Linked DNA regions of Homo sapiens: region 1 is linked to region 2. Evidence: fine-mapped expression QTL. Tissue or cell type: thyroid. Region 2 holds a variant in brackets; the other region holds the start of a gene. All regions are shown on one strand. Distances are between the middles of the regions.

The links. PIP is the estimated chance that this variant, and not a neighbour inherited with it, causes the effect.
Region 1: RBKS starts here. The variant in region 2 is fine-mapped to the expression of RBKS in thyroid (GTEx, PIP 0.98).

The regions. Positions count from the first base shown.
Region 1 is chr2:27,889,142-27,891,746 of GRCh38, reverse strand. RBKS (ribokinase) reads left to right here and starts at 1,360. Exons shown (of 8, transcript NM_022128.3): 1 at 1,360-1,490. The coding sequence starts at 1,402. It overlaps BABAM2 (BRISC and BRCA1 A complex member 2), which reads right to left and starts at 1,018. Exons shown (of 12, transcript NM_199191.3): 1 at 905-1,018. BABAM2-AS1 (BABAM2 antisense RNA 1) reads left to right here and starts at 633. Exons shown (of 1, transcript NR_028308.1): 1 at 633-2,291. RefSeq lists a silencer at 893-1,172.
Region 2 is chr2:28,328,522-28,331,021 of GRCh38, reverse strand. The region is part of intron 11 of BABAM2 (BRISC and BRCA1 A complex member 2); the gene reads right to left. Among named protein-coding and RNA genes, the nearest start is that of BABAM2-AS2, 19 kb to the right of the region's middle. The variant T/C (reference allele first, on the strand shown) is at 1,400.

The DNA.
Region 1 (2,605 bases), 440 kb after region 2:
TATTTCAACCATGAGGAGGTGTGACTTCTCTAAAAAAAAAGGGCGGGGGGTGGGGAGTGGAACACAATGACTCCAAAATCAGAAGTCACTTAGCCAAAAACACTGGTCCTTTGGTGCAGTGAACCGGGTACATGGACAGGGAGTCACCACCGGTAGTAACTCTTACGCATGGCAGCACTATAATACACCCCAGATATACAAATATTTACGGTGGTCAGAGTCCCCTGAATACTACTACTGCAATTTGTATTTCCTGATTTTGACGTATTGCAAAAGGAAAATGCAAAATTACAATTTTTGCAAGGGTCTGCTACCCCAAAATAAAGTTACAAAAGGTCCTTTGATGAGAGGCCTGGGGATTACAAAGACGTCTAAAGCACCATCCAGGTTCTTGCAATTAAAATGAGATGACAAACACGGAAACATGTGCCCTGCTGACGTCATGGAACGGAAAGGGGTGGCATCCTGCTGCGTCACGTCGACGTCATACAGCGCACGAGGGAAGTTACACTGGGGAAGCAATTTCCCCCAAGGGGCAACATTCGAGAAAAACAAGTTAGCTCAGACCCGAAGAATGACCACCCCACTCTAGGGGACGTCTTAAAAAGGGACACTCTCCCCTCTTCCAAACTGTATGATTCCCCTCATCAGGCAACAAGGAACTAATACTCGGGGTTTACAGGAACCAGGGGATGGGCCAGATATGGAGAAAGAGACGCCTCTGGCCTTGGGGGCTCGTTCTTGAGGGAATCAGCGTGATGGGGATGAGAAGGGCATCTTTGGAACGGGGGCCTTCTCCATAGGAAGAGGAGGCGAGTCCCCTGGCCATATTTAAACCACAGTTCTCCACGCCACCTGTGCGACTCGGGATCCAACCTCCCCGCACCAGCCCCAGTCCAGGTACCTGGAACTTAGTCCGATCGGTAACCGGCGACTACGTGGGGTACAGGTACCCGAGCGCGCCCCCGACAGACGCACCGACCTGCGCGCGCGCCGCGGGCAGGATGCGTGCGCACTCCCCGGACGTCCCGCCCCGCCCCCTCTGCGGCCCCGAAGCTGGGCGGCGTGCGCGCCCCCGCGCCGCGCCGAGCCGGGCGCTCGGAAAGGCGTCCCCGCGGTGCCTGACAGTTCCTTCCTCAGCGCCTGCCCCGTGAGTGACGAGGAGCGCGGAGTCTCGCCATATCAGGAGGGCCCTGTTACGTGAGGCTGTGCACCGAGACTATTCCAGGAAGAAGAGGGGACACTTGGTGGGCGGGGTGATTTCGGGCAGTCAGGTGGGCGACCCGCGTAGGCGTCTGAAAGGCCCGCGTCGTTAGGGAGGGCAGGAGTGGCGTCTCTGGTTACGGGGTCGGGCAAAGGGCAGAGGTCACCGTCCAGGTTGGACAGCAGCACCTTTGAGCGATGGCGGCGTCTGGGGAACCCCAGAGGCAGTGGCAAGAGGAGGTGGCGGCGGTGGTAGTGGTGGGCTCCTGCATGACCGACCTGGTCAGGTTAGTCCGGGGCCAGTTACTCAGTCTGCGGCTCGGGGGAGGAGGCGTGCCGTGCGCTATGCGCCCAGTGGAGCTTTTGGGCGCTGGGTCTCCAGGGATAGACAGTGCTAGCTTTGGGTATGAGCTGCAGGTTTTCGAAGCCTTCAGCCTACCTTCCTGGCATGAAAGAACTTGAGTATATAAAGGTAAATCTCAGGGGAGGGGACGTAATAGGCCAGGGTTTAGTGAAAGCTCTAATATTACTCAAAGCGCTCCCCAAAGACCTGCCCTCCAAAGACTTGCGCCCCCAAAGACCTTTCTTGGCCCGGCTGCTGAGCCTTTCCCCAAACGAGCCAGGGAACTTTGCCCACGTCATTTTACCTCCGAGAATGTGCCTACCTCACAGGGTTGTTGTGAGGACTAAATGAAGTAAAGTGTTTTGTCAAGCGTAACATTATCCAAATTGGGTATTATTCGTCTGAGCTTATTGTATAAAATAATGAGTTGAGCAGAAATCAAAAAGACTGTCACCTTTCACCATGTTGATTGTCGGCATTACTGCAGTATTTTATATTTACAGCGTATTTTTCAGCAAGCCAAGTATGAATCAAAATAAAAACATAAACACAGTATTTACAACCTCTGAAAACGATGATCAAATTATGATAGAAAATATGCCAAATGAAAATTGTTGAGTTAGGTCAGTAAGATTGAGTAGACAGATCCTTCTGATTTTTCTTTTTTTTAAATTAAGGTAGCTTTTCTGATTACAAAAGTAATGTATGTTCACTGTAAAATTAGTAATAAATTCAGATATTCCAAGAAAATCCTACCACTCCAATTACTGCAGTTCAGTCTTTTGATGAATATCTTTTCAGTTGTAATGCTACTTTGTGTTATAAAAATGATCAGGTATGCTACAGTAACACCTCATTCGTCCTGAAATGTTGCTTTTCCAAAGGGTAATAGAGAACGTGGAACTAAACAAAAAGGCTTTGGGACAATCAAAATAAGTCACCAAATTGCTGCACCAAACCACCTGTATTCTACTCAGAAAATAGGTCTAGGGTCTTCATGTAACCAATTTAACCTTACCTTAAAATATTTATAAGCTGTGTTACCAAATTTCCACTGAG
Region 2 (2,500 bases):
TGTGCGGCCTTATTTCTGAGATGTCTATCCTGTTCCACTGGTTTGTGTCTGTTTTTGTACCAGTACCATGCCGTTTTGGTTACTGTAGTAAAGTCTGAAGTCACGTGATGCCTCCAACTTTGTTCTTTTTGCTTAGGATTGTCTTGGCTATACGGGCTCTTTTTTAGTTCCACATGAATTTTAATGTAGAATTTTTAAAAAAATTCTGTGAAGAATGTCCATGGTAGTTTAATGGGAAAAGCATTGAATCTATAAATTGCTTTGGGAAGTATGGCTATTTTCATGATACTAATTCTTCCTATCCATGAGCTTGGAATGTTTTTCCATTTGTTTGTGTCCTCTCTGACTTCCTTGAGCAGTGGTTTGTAGTTCTCCTTGAAGAGGTCCTTCACATACCTTGTAAGTTGTATTCCTAGGTATTTCATTCTCTTTGTAGCAACTGTGAATGGGAGTTCATTCATGATTTGGCTCTCTGCTTGTCTACTGTTGGTGTATAAGAATGCCTGTGATTTTTGCACATTGATTTTGTATCCTGAGACTTTGCTGAAGTTGCTTGTCAGCTTAAGAAGCTTTTGGGCTGAGACAATGGGGTTTTCTAGATATAAGATCATGGCATCTGCAAACACAGACCATTTGATTAACTCTCTTCCTATTGAATACCCTTTATTTCTTTCTCTTGCCTTATTTCTCTGGCCAGAACTTCCAATACTATGTTGAATAGGAGTGGTGAGAGAGGGCATCCTTGTCTTGTGCTGGTTTTCAAGGGGAATGCTTCCAGCTTTTGCCTGTTCGGTATGATATTGGCTGTGGGTTTGTCATAAATGGCTCTTATTATTTTGAGGTATGTTCCACCAATACCTAGTTTATTGAGAGTTTTTAACATGAAGGAATGTTGAATTTTATTGAAGGCCTTTTCTGCATCTATTGAGATAATCATGTGGTTTTTGTCTTTACTTCTGTTTATGTGATGAATTACATTTACTGATTTGCATATGTTGAACCAGCCTTGCATCCTGGGGATGAAGCTGACTTGATTGTGGTGGATAAGCTTTTTGATGTGCTGCTGGATTCAGTCTGCCAGTATTTTATTGAGGATTTTTACACTGATGTTCATCAGGAGTATTGGCCTGACATTTTCTTTTTTTGTTGTATCTCTGCCAGGTTTTGGTATCAGGATAATGCTGGTCTCATAAAGTGAGTTAGGGAGAAGTCCCTCCTTTTCAATTGTTTGGAATAGTTTCAGAAGAAACGGTACCAGATCCTCTTTGTACCTCTGGTAGAATTCAGCTGTAAATTCATCTGGTCCTGGGCTTTTTTTGGTTGGTAGGCTATTTATTACTGCCTCAATTTCAGAACTTGTTATTGGTCTATTCAGGGATTCAACTTCTTTCTGGTTCAG[T/C]CTTGGGAGGGTGTATGTGTCCAGGAATTTATCCATTTCATCTAGATTTTCTAGCTTATTTGCACAGAGGTGTTTATATAGTATTCTCTGATGGTTGTTTGTATTTCTGTGGGGTCAGTGGTGATAGCCCCTTTATCATTTTTTATTGACTAGCACCTCTTTTCAAGGAGGTTGTGAGGAGAATGGAAATGTGTATCAAGTACCAAGCCCAGGGCCCCACACAAATGCAAGTTTCAGTAGGAGGTGGTAATGCTGCAAAGGTGGTGGGAGTAGTTGGGTTATTATTGGATCGTTTCCATCTGCATAGTTTTATACAAATGGGGTAGGGTTAGTGAACGCTGCAGAGCCCCGAGCAAAAAGTGCCATAGACAGTTTTGTCGGGGGACATGAAGGCCTGTTCCTCTCGGCCACCCCTCTGCCCTCTAGCTCAGGAAGCATAAGTTATCAGGGGTAATGCCTGGAAAATGACATAATGGTTGGGTTCTAGAGAAGGGGAAATCAGGAGACTGAAGAAAGTTAAGACAGGGAGCTATCAGGGAAATGCTCAGAGGCCTTGGGGTTGAGGCCAGTAGGAAACTTTGTTCAACGAAGTCTCATCTAAAGGGTTCTTTCCTACTGGAATTACAATGCTTTATTGATTCAATAGATCTTTTCAAAAGGATAAAAATCCATAAAATAGACGTCTGACAAACTGAATCAATATAGCTTTAAATAAATGAAAACAAAACACAGAATATACAACCCAAAGAGGTTGGGGACTGGCAGCGGGGAGAGAGCACCTAAGGCAGTTAAGCTTTGCAAAGGTGGTGCTCACAACACTACTGGGTGTGGCAGGGGTCATGCTCCCCATTTTGCAGGAGAGAAAACAGAAGCTTAGCAAGTTTAGTTAAGATACCTGCCAATGTCACTCCAACCCCAGTGCCACTAGAGCCCGGCCCCGTGGACGAGACCCTGTGGTCTTGTTGCTGTTAGCCTCCTTCACTTGGAACTTTTTATTTGGCAAGAGCCTAACAGTTGCCTTCTTCCAAAACAGGACTTGAATTCTGGAATTCAAACATGCTTTTCTTTGGGTAATTGTAAGATGAGCCTCATGATGTTTGC